3 linked regions of the Homo sapiens genome follow. The protein of the gene in region 1 purifies or fractionates together with the protein of each later gene. This does not show direct contact. Each region holds a gene or a part of one and is shown in the gene's direction. Other genes may lie near its edges. The genes, in order: FAM133B, RRP15 and RSF1.

Region 1 (4,379 bases):
GCTTATCATGTTGGAGTATTAAAAATAATATCTGTCAAATGCCTAGAATATTTAAAACATGAAAAATAAGCCAGGAAAGAAAGAATAACTTAATATTAATAGGTTCTCCTCTTCCTCTTGTGTATAAAAAGAAGCCTGTCTTCAGTCAGAGTCCCCAGCTTAAGTCGGGGGTAATGGAGGAGGAGGAGAAATGAGAGACTGGAGGCCTCATTTTGGAAAGTGGGTTACTGAGGAAGAATCAACACTTAGTAGGGAGCAGAACCACCAAGGACTGCATGTGAGAGTTTGGAAAAGTTTTGAGACAGAAGATGGTAGTTGGGAGCATCTGTCATATAGTGTAGCATGAAAAATGCAGGGAGGGAGGGAGGCAGAGATCGGGAAAGATGATTTTAAAGCATGTTCTTGTATGTAATTAGTGTAATTCCCATTTTGCCATTTCCAAGAGTCCGGAGAAGATCCTAATTGATTTTCAACTACTTCCTAATGATACTTGCTAAGATGAACCCAGAGGGGTCGCTTTATCTATAAATACTTACTAAATATGATTATCTTCTCTGGAGCCCAGATCATCTTCCTTAAAGTTGCAGTGCAGTAGTGCCAATATTACGATATGCTATGCAGTAAAGTTGGCCCTGTGTGTGTTTATTGCCCTTACGAGTTTATAAACAGGCTCCTTGACGATAGGGATTTTTCTTAATCATCTTTGTGCCCTACCCAGCTCCAGCTTCCAGCCACCCAGTTAGTGAAAACTGTACAAACTACATGTTCAAAAATTAGTGTGAAATGAATGCACAGGTGATGAATGAATGGGATTGAAATTAAAGGGTGATTTCGTTAGCAGCGTCTATGACAGCACTGCCTTTCCCCCCACCAGCTGATGGGCTCCGTGAGGGACCAAGGCTCTTTGGTCCTCACTTTGTCCCCAGCACTTGCACTCTGTCAAGCACAAAATAAGCATCGGGAGAATCTTTGTGTCCCCTCGAATGAGTATTTCAGTGTATCAAGAATGGAAGAAAGGCCAAGCGCAGTGGCTCATGCCTGTAATCCCAGCACTTTGGGTCGAGGCGGGCGGATCACTTGAGGTCAGGAGTTATAGACCAGCCTGGCCAACGTGGTAAAACCCTGTCTCTACTAAAAATACAAAAAATTTAGCCCGGCGTGTTGACGGCCGCCTGTAATCTCAGCTACTCGGGATGCTGAGGCAGGAAAATCGCTTGAACCCGGGAGGTGGAGGCTGCAGTGAGCCTAGATCGTGCCACTGCACTCCAGCCTGGGCGACGGAGCGAGAGTCTGTCTAAAAAAAAAAAAAAAAAAAAAAAAAAAAAAAAGAATGGAAGAAAGCAAAACAATCCAAGGCCAAACTGAAGCGAGCTGCCTTGGTGGGGCTCCGGTGCAGAAGCGCAGCGTCGCCTGCTCTTGGGTGCCTAATGAACGACCGGACTCCTGCAGGCGCTCCGCCAACTGCAGCGATCTCTGGAGCCGGCCTGTCCTCCACAGAGATAGGGGGCGCTGTAGCAGAGCGCGGCCGTCGAGTCCGCGTGGTGCCGCTCTCTAGGCGGAGTGGGGAGGCGGCAAGAGGACCTGCGGCAGGCCCTCTTCGGCAGTCTCTCCGGCCCGGTTTCCCTCGGCGTGCTACTGTGCGCTCGATCCAGCACCATGGGGAAGCGGGACAATCGGGTGGTGAGTACTCAGCCGGGAAAACAGTGGGGCGACGCAGGGCCCGGCGGCAGGACAGCGAGAACCCTCGCTGTTCCCGGCCGGGCCGGAGGGCAAGCGGCAGCCCTCAGACGTGGGGCCTGGAGACCCAGCACCCTCCGCCGATCCCAGATGCGCGTGCGCCGCGCACGCAGTTGGCGCTTTAGGGTTCCCAGCTCTCTCTTGCCCGCCCCTTTTTTCTTCCCTCACCTCGTCGCTCTTTCTGGCGCTGCTGGTTTGCACTCTTGCCTGCTGTACGCGGGCCCCCAGTGCCCACTTAGAACCGCGAGGGCTCGGGGAACCCCCCCCACACCTGGCCCCGCCATGTAACTCCGAAGACTTAGGCCCTTGGACGCATCCGACTCACCCGCCCCTTGGTATCGGCCGCCCCAGGTCCGCACCCCTCTCCTGCGCACCCAAGTGGGAGGGAGGCACAGAGGCCTCGACGCGGTCCCTGTGCCGGAGAGCCAGCAGCGCGCCTGGTTTTAGCGACAAGCAGGCTCCCGTTTGAAAATGGGATGGCAGCATTTGCTTTCGTGTCTCCAGCGCCCTGTAGGACCTGGCCCCCATAGACACTGTGAGGGAATGAATGGCGTGAAAATAGTTGGCTTTCGAGTCCAACACAAAACTGGAATGTCAGTTTTGTTCCGTCGGAAGTTGGGTGACCTAGAACAAGTTACTTTTCTTCTCTGTGCCGTCGTTTATAAAAGGGGATCATTATTATCTACAACCTTACAGATTAATTGAAATCACAAAAGGCAAGATGTGTGAGCGAGTACTGGGCATGAAAATTATTACTCTAGTGAATGAGATAAAAGAGATGCATAAATAACTTACAGCAGAAAGAGTAGGAAATGGTCCTTGATAGTTGTTAGAGATTCTAAAGGCATTCAAAAGAAAAGGTGCTTTTGAGAAGCGGAGATGGGAGGAAAGTATTCTAGACCGCTGGGGCGGGGAGGGGGCTGAAAAACTCAGGTTATGAATCAGATTGAATGAGTAGTAAACATAATGAAATAACAATAAGCTTAGGTTGCAGCCTGACAATTTCTGGGCTTGCCTGTGACAAAGTTTTAGCCACTGAGTAGCAAAATGAGGAAAATGCACGTAAAACGAATGTGCTACGTTTCTTGAACTCGCTTTTTTATTCAACAATTATTTGCAAGCTGTGTGTGTCTCACACCAAAGGAGACTTAACATTTACGAAATGATGACACTTGCCATCTGTAGTAGCCAGTTCTTGCATGGCTTTTATAAAGAAAAACCTGAGGCTGGGTAATTTATAAAGAAAAGTGTTTAATTGGCTCACGGTTCTATGGGCTGTACAGGAAGCTTAGCGGCATCTGCTTCTGGGGAGGCCTCAGGGAGCTGTTACTCATGGTGGAAGGCAAAGCAGGAGCAGGCGTCTTACATGGCAGGAGCGGGACCAAGAGAGGGACGGGGAGAGTTGCTACACAGTTTTAAACAACCGCATCTGTTGAGAAATCATCTCTATGCAGTGCTGGGGAGAGGAGGATGCTAAGCCATTCATGAGAACTCCGCCCCCATGATCCAGTCACCTCCCACCAGGCCCCACCTCCAACATTGGGGATTACAATTCGACATGAGATTTGGGCGGGGACACAGATCCAAACCATTTCACCATCTTAAAAACTTTGTAGTTCTGTATAGTCTTTATAATGGAAAATGTCTAGGAACCACTGTGGTAGTGAATCTTGATTACAAGATAGCGGGTTGTTCTTTCTCCTGGCTGTAGGTGAGACTTTGTTGTGCTATCTTGATTGTCATGGCGTTGAAATTATGTAGCATAACACCATTTCAGCATAGGAGCATCCTTAGGTGTTTGAGTATTTTGGGCTCTTCTAATACCCTTGGGCCTTGAATGTTTAGAGATCACCTGACCTTGGATGCAGTTTCATATACAGACCTAAAATGTTTCATATTACTGAAAAAACGTTTTGGTTGAAACATTCCTCTAAAACATTTGAAAAACTTACCAAATTAGCTTCATTTACTAGAACATTTTGATAGCTCTGGGCTCTACTTACTACTTTTGGTATGCAGCTATGGCACAGAGTATTCTGGTAACATTTTGTGTGCACTTCAAAGATTGGGATTAAGAACAAGAAATTAAGAGGTAGAAGACACGGATTGTCTAATTCAGTCTCCTCATTGCATAGAGGAGGGGTAAGACTTTAAACTGGGACCAAAACTTCAGTCATCTGACACTCAATTCTGTACATCTTAACTCTTGATTTTCTTTTTAAGACTTTTTTTTTTAAGCATTTTTAGTTTTACAGCAAAATTGAGAGGAAGGTACAAAGATATCCCGTTTACCTCCTGACCCCACTCGTGCATAGCCTCCCCATTATGAACATCCTTCACCAGAGTGGTACATTTGTTAAAATTGATGAACCTACATTGACATGTTACTATCATCCAGTCAGTAGTTTACATTAGTGCTCACTCTTAGTGTTCATTCTCTATGGGCTTGGACAAATAAATTTATTTATTTATTTATTTAGACACAGTATCTCACTCTTGCCCAAGCTGGAGTGCAGTGTCGCCATCATGGCTCACTGCAGCTTCAACTTCCCAGGCTCAAGGGATGCTCTCACGTCAGCCTCCCAAGTAGCTGGGACCACAGGTGTGTGGAACCACACCTGGCTAATTTTTTGTTGTTTTTT
Region 2 (3,651 bases), on another chromosome or scaffold:
AAGGGCCCCACTTGAAATATTTTTCAAAAAGAAAGTATTCAATTTTGCAAACAGGCAACTTTCATGTGAGCTTATAGCACCATAGGTTTTGGGCATACTACACTGTTAGAGGAATTGGATAATAACAATAGTTATACTTTTGGAACTTTCCTATGTGCCTGGTTCTGTTCTGAGTTCCTTCTATATATCAGCTCAGAGAATTCTGACAACTCTATGAGATAGATGCTGCTATTATCCTCCTGTTACATTTAAAAAACTGAGGCACAGAGGCTTATAACTTGCCCACTTCTGTACATAAGCAGATAAGCAAGTTGATAAATGATACAACAATTATTGAAGTTTGATTGTAGAGCTTATGCTCTTGACCACTACCTTAATATGTTTGAGGAATCAGGAGGACATAGATAATTTTAAAAAGTATCTGGAAAGTGAAAGCGTTGGGCCTTTGAATCTAAGGAAAGAAAGGATTGGGGACAAGGAGACTTTGGTATGGAGACAAACTTTTCTCCCTCCCACTCAAGAAGATTTCATCACCAAGGGACATTTTTGTGTTCAGATTTCTATAGCACTTCCAATGTTTATAACCAGAGTATTCTTTCCTTCCTTCCTTTCTCCTAAAATCCATATGTTATTTCTGGAAGCAAATTCCCCTGTTCACTCAATTGTATAAGAGGCACCTGTGATGGTACTACCTTTCAGAGTGACTTTGTGCTAGTTATTATTATCTACCCCAATTTCCTCATCTACAAAATGAGGATAATAATAATGTCTACTTTAGGATTGTTGTAACAATTAAATGAGTTTATATATGGTAAGCATTTAATATTTGGCACATGGTACCCACTCATAAATATTAGTGATGACGATGATGTCTCTTCTGACCTAAAAAAACTGCTAGTCCCATCTCTTTTTGCCAAATAAGTTTTCCCACCTTTGGTAATGTGGTATTTGTAAGCTGGAGCTCTCCCCAGAAAAGAGGTTTGAATTATTCTAGTAACCCTGTAAGGTAGCTGATGGCATTTCTATTTTACAGATAAGAAAAGAAGCTTGGAAATAGTGCTTCCAGTATATCATATTGCTTCCTAGTAGAAAACTGTTACCTCCATAGGTGCAAGATGTTATCTGTTATTCCACTCGTTTTATTCCATAATCTAACCATTAGATCATATATTTTTGGTAAAATTCAAGATCAGTGATAACGATGTTGATAACAATTGATTGTGTCTGCTTGGTTATGCCATAGACACATTTTCTTTGCCAAAGCTGCTTCTGTCTCTAAGAAAGACACTGCCATCTACTCCCATCCAAGCTGGAAACACAAGTGTCATCCTTTAGTCTTCCTGTTGCTTCCATATCTATTTGGTTTAATTAATCCATTTATTCTGTTGCCACTACTTTAGTTCTTGCCCGCATCTCTCTCTCTCTCTTTTTTGAGATGGAGTTTTGCTCTTGTTGCCCAGGCTGGAGTGCAATGGTATGATCTCAGGTCACCCCAACCTCCACCTCCAGGGTTCAAGTGATTCTTCTGCCTCAGCCTCCCAAGTAGCTGGGATTACAGGCATGCACCACCACACCCAGCTAATTTTGTATTTTTAGTAGAGACAGAGTTTCTCCATGTTGGTCAGGCTGGTCTTGAACTCCTGACCTCAGGTGATCCACCCACCTTGGCCTCCCAAAGTGCTGGGATTACAGGCATGAGCCACTGTGCCTGGCCTTGCCTGCATCTCTTTTGTTTACATTAGTTCATAGGGTACCTATCTGTTGGGCCTGTCATTGCAGCCTTACTCCCTTCAGTCTTCTAGGCAATTGCTTCTTTAACCATCAATGTTGAAGGACCATTCTGAGTTTTGTTTTTTAATCTCCAATCTGTAATAGACAGGTGTTTTTTTTAAAAAAAATCAATGAAAAAGAGTAACTGGAAACATGACCACATTGTTGGACATCATGGTAATATCAAATTACTATAAATGTTTATAAATACTTACTCTCAATTTGTGAATTCGCAGTTGATTCTAGTTACAGTAATGTTCAGTAAAGTTGCAGGAAACCCTGAATCCCTGAATTAGTGAACCATTGCTTCTAGAGGAAATACAGTTTTAGGCTCCTGTGAGCCTCTGGTCAGAACATTTTTGTCATTTTATCAATACATAACCTTGTCTTATGTGGATTTTTTTTGGGTTTTTTGTTTGTTTGTTTGTTTTTGTTTTTGTTTTCTGAAACAAGATCTGGCTCTATTACCCAGGCTGCTGGAGTGCAGTGGTGCAATCTTGGCTCACTGCAACCTCTGCCTGTTAGGCTCAAGCCATCCTCCCACCTCAGCCTCTGGATTAGCTGGGACTATAGGCGTACACTACCCACACCTGGCTGATTTTTGTATTTTTGGAAGAGATGAGGTTTTGCCATGTTGCTCAGACTGGTCTTGAACTCATGAGCTCAATTGATCTGCCTGCCTTGGCCTCCCAAAGTGCTGGGATTACAGGCATGAGCCACTGCTCCCAGCCTTATGTGTGTTTTTGTTTGAAGACAAAGAAGAGCTCCACTTGAAATGGTTTTCAGAAAGAAAGTGTTTGATTTTCCTTGGCCACATGCGGGGGGCATACATCTGTAATCTCAGCACTTTGGAGGCTGAGGTGGGAGGATTGCTTGAACCCAGGAGTCTGAGGCCAGCCTAGGCAACATAGTGAGACCCCGTCACTACAAAAAAAATGGAAAAAACTAGCTGGATATGGTGGTGTGTGCCGTGTGCCTGTAATCCCAGCTACTTGGGAGGCTAAGGTGGGAGGGTTGCTTGAGCCTGGGAGTTCGAGACTGCAGTGAGCTGTGACTGTGCCACTGTACTCCAGCCTGGGTGACACAGCATGACCCTGTCCCAAAAAATAAAAAATTTAGACTGGACATGGTGGCTCACACCTGTAATCCCAGCACTTTGGGAGGCCAAGGTGGGCAGATCACTTAAAGTCAGGAATTTGAGACCAGCCTGGCTAACATGGCAAAACCCATCTCTACCAAAAAAAAAATATACAAAAAATTAGCCCAACATGGTGGTGTATGCCTGTAGTGCCAGCTACTTGTGAGGCTAAGGCATAAGAATCACTTGAACCTGGGAGGCAGAGGTTGCAGTGGGCCAAGATTGTGCCACTGCACTCCAGCCTGGCTGACAGAGTGAGACTCTGTCTCAAAAATGAATAAATAAATTTTAAAAACAAAACTCTGAGATTAAAGAAAAAGGAAAAAAAAAAGAAAGAAATCATTGAATTTTCCTTTTTTTTTTTTTTTTTTTTTTGAGATGGAGTCTCGTTCTGTTGCCAGGCTGGAGTACAGTGGTGCTATCTCGGTTCACCACAACCTCCGCCTCCCAGGTTCAAGCAATTCTTCTGCCTCAGCCTTCCGAGTAGCTGGTACTACAGGCACGTGCCACCACGCCCGGCTAATTTTTGTATTTTTAGTAGAGACGGGGTTTCAACATGTTGGCCAGGATAGTCTGGATCTCTTGACCTCATGATACACCCACCTTGGTCTCCCAAAGTGTTGGGATTACAGGCGTGAGCCACCGCGGCTGGCCCCCCACTCCCCACCCCCTTTTTTTTTAAGACAAAGTCTTGGTCTGTTGCCTAGGCTGGAGTGCAGTGGCATAATCAGAGCTCTCTGCAG
Region 3 (3,651 bases), on another chromosome or scaffold:
CCTATTTGGCAGGCATAGAAACTAAGGCTCAATAGATTAAGGTGCTTAAGAGTCTATAGTTAATGGTAGAATATGATTTCCAACCCAAGTCTGAGTCCAAAGCCACAAAATTATATACCTTGCCATAGTATCATGGTTTCCAAACTGCACCAAGGCACCCTAGAGCATTGTTGCCAACTCCATCTGATAGTTTAAATTTTCAAGTAGGATACAGTGGTAGCCGAAATTTGCTGGTTGCCAGGTGAGCTACTGCCTTGACATACTTCATGGTTTCAAGGTTGTGCCACATTTCTATAGATGATATGTCTTTGTGAAGCTGGTTTTTTAGCGGTTGCTGTGGTAAAATTCACAAAAAAGTCAGTATGCAGCAGGAAAGAGGATAGCAGGGTCCACTCTGATTCCAAGGTTTGAAAAGTTGTGCAGTGCCCAACAGTAATACACATTTCACAAGTAATTATGGTTAAGAATGAAGTAAAAACATTATTTGTTGAAATTTAGCTAGGTTATTTTTTCACATGGCTACTGACTACTTAATAAGTGGAAGTGTTATTATTTCTGGCCTAGGGCTGCTGTGAGAAAATTACTGAGATACTGAGGGTGCCGTGAAGCTAGAATGTTTGAGAACCTTTGCTCTAGAAACTATCATTGAATTTCGGGGCAAGAAAGAAGGGACTATTGTGTCATTGCCTTTATTTTTCAGGAGGAAAATCAAGCTACAGAGAGAGATTTCAAGTGTATACAGCTAACTGTTGGTGTTAGTCAAATTCTTATTTGAAAAGCCCACATATATGCTGAAATTGTCAACAAAAAATTTAGATTTATAGTTGATACTAGTTATAAAAGGATGTGCCAAATGAAGGTGGTGTTTTATCCTCCTCTCCCTGCAGTCTACTTTAGTCCTCCCAATTCTGTGCTTTGTGTGGACTTCCCCAGGTTTCTCCTAACTGGAGGTAGATGATGGTGGTTATGGATAAAGTTGACGTTGACTTTGTGAGATCCCTGACACCCAAGGCTCCTAAGTATCTTTCCTCTCCTGCAGAGAATATTTCTTTTCAAGAGGAAACTATACTACTGTATTCTTTAAAAACAGTCTGGATATTGGTTGAGATGTTACATATATCTAATAAATTTATTAAGGTAAATACAGATAATGTGTTAGGATTCTCATAGTTTATACTATGGTTGGCTGAATTAGTTGTATGATATTAAGTAAGTTGAGCCATTAGTTTTTTGTTTCATTTTTGCATTTAATGATTTGAATTTTAACTCGAAGTGAAAATATCAAAGTTAAAAAAATGCCTTTTTAACTGGAATTGTAACTATAACTTACTATGGTCTCTCTTACTGGTACTGTAACTGATCTGTGTGTAACAATATATTTTTAGGTGCATTTGATAAAGTGGAAAGGTGATTACTGTAACTGGGGCCACATGTGTTGATTTAAACAAAAGATTTTACCAGGTGCATGTACTAGAGGTTGCATGAGTCTACAGTGGTAGACACTGGTAGGGCATACATACATTAATAGTAGTATTGCTGGGGCCAGAGCCTGGTTAGGTTGAAACTTTTTAGTTGTGTCTCTTCTGCCTTTGAAAAAGCAAATATTCTTTAGGGCACTTATTAGATGAAAAGAGAGAAACAGATTTCATCTCCACCATTTTCGATATGTCATAGAGTAAAGTTACGGAGGTTTGGAGGGAGGTTGTTGTCATTGTCCTAGGAACTAGGAGGTAATGGAGACAGAGGGACTTGTCTGGCTAACATGAGCCTGTTAATGCAAACTGGCTTACTTTTTAGTCTTTTAATGATTAAGAAGTTTGCCTTAAATTTAGATGTTTTGTTAAGTTCTTAAACAGACCTCACCGGTAAGAAGGTAAGCAAGCATTTATTAGTGAGGTTATTCACTTAATATATATATTGAGCATCTGCTATGTACAGATGTAGCTACAGTAAATATTGTGGGGATTATTTTTTTAAAAAAACATTAAACATGAGCCTTTTAAAAGAAATTTCTAATCTAGTAAGAAATAGCTAAACTGAGCTTGAAACTAATGACATCATTCAAAGACTTAGTTTTTTTTCTCTGAGATTTTATCAAGTGGAGCAATAGTCCGTGCATTCTAGTCTACAGTTGTAAACTAAAATTATCTAACAATTTTATGGTGAGATGTATGACCACATGCAATATGAAAAAGAATAATTCAGGCCTAAAGTACATGTTAAACTGAATCATGTATTCAAGGAAGACAGTTATGTGTGTTGTTAGATTTAATAAAATTTTACTCTACCTGATGGGTATAGTCTTAATATATTATGCTTGGCTTTTTTTGTTTGTTTTCTGTTTTTATTGTAGAGTAGATCCCACAAAAGGTATTAGGGTATTTTCTATTTTCTTTTAAAAACATTTAATTATATGGGCAATTATAATGTACACTTTGTAATTACATATGTTCTAGCAGGCTTTGATTTTTAATTTGTTTAGCTTTATATGGTCATATCTGTACGTTAGGTTTGCATTAGCTAACTTTTAAACATTTTTGCTCGCTCTTGTACTGTTGGGCACAAGCAGTGCCTCCAGGCAAATTGATGCCTAAACTAGAGAGAACAGCAGGCATTCTCTCCTTACTCTTCCACTTCCCCTTTACTTCCATTTCCTGATCCTCATGTCTGAAGTCACACCACCTTTAGCCATTTGAAGGGGCTGCTTCTTCCATTTTACGCTTTCTTTCACTTGTATGCCATAAAGTGCAGTGCCTGCTAGCTCCAGTGTGCTCTGTATGAGGTTTGCACCAGTGTGTTAGGAAGAAAGGAGGCACTGAAATTAAAAAAAAACCATATTTTGGGGGTTTCCAAGTCACTAAACAATTGAACCACAATAATAGAGGAAACTGACTTAAACAGTATTAAACTGGTATTGCTTCAAACATTATCAAAGGATTTCTGAGGTGAATGCCTACTTTATAAAAATGTATTTTTTCGGCTGGGCACGGTGGCTCATGCCTGTAATCCCAGCACTTAGGGAGGCCCAGGCGGCGGATCACCTGAGGTCAGGAGTTTGAGACCAGCCTGGCGAACATGGTGAAACCCCATCTGTACTAAAAATACAAAAATTAGTCAGACCTGGTGTCAGGCGCCTGTAATCCCAGCTACTCGGGAGACCGAGGCAGGAGAATCGCTTGAACCTGGGAGGCAGAGGTTGCAGTGAGCCAAGATGGTGCCACTGCACTCCAGCCTGGGTGACAGAGCGAGACTCTGTCCTTTTTTTTCCCCCCCAGAGTTAGGGCCTTGAATTCCTGGGCTCAAGAAATCCTCCTGCCCCAACCTCCCGAGTAGTTGGAACTACAGGCACATGCCACCATGCCCAGCTAATTTTTAAAAATTTTTTTGGTAGAGAATGAGGTCTTGCTGTATTGTCCAGGCTGGTCTTGAACTCCTGGACTCAGGTGATACTCCCACCTCGGCCTCCCAAAGTGCTGGGGTTACAGGCATGAGTCACCACTTGTGGCCAAAACTTTTTTTTTTTTTGAGACAGTCTCGCTCTGTGGCCCAGGCTGGAGTGCAGTGGCGCGATCCTGGTTCACTACAACCTCTGCCTCCTGGGTTCAAGTGATTCTCCTGCCTCACGCTCCCAAGTAACTGGGATTACAGGCA

Evidence for each region.
Region 2: the proteins of FAM133B (region 1) and RRP15 fractionate together in Homo sapiens (co-fractionation; one large-scale study listed by BioGRID). This does not show direct contact.
Region 3: the proteins of FAM133B (region 1) and RSF1 fractionate together in Homo sapiens (co-fractionation; one large-scale study listed by BioGRID). This does not show direct contact.

The regions. Positions count from the first base shown.
Region 1 is NC_000007.14:92,587,569-92,591,947, reverse strand, and holds the start of FAM133B (protein FAM133B), read left to right. Parts: upstream 1-1,557; 5' UTR 1,558-1,656; coding exon 1,657-1,680; intron 1,681-1,898; exon of another isoform or gene 1,899-2,088; intron 2,089-4,379.
Region 2 is NC_000001.11:218,288,268-218,291,918, forward strand, and holds part of RRP15 (RRP15-like protein), read left to right. Parts: intron 1-3,651.
Region 3 is NC_000011.10:77,814,072-77,817,722, reverse strand, and holds part of RSF1 (remodeling and spacing factor 1), read left to right. Parts: intron 1-3,651. UniProt on the Homo sapiens protein: Regulatory subunit of the ATP-dependent RSF-1 and RSF-5 ISWI chromatin-remodeling complexes, which form ordered nucleosome arrays on chromatin and facilitate access to DNA during DNA-templated processes such as DNA replication, transcription, and repair.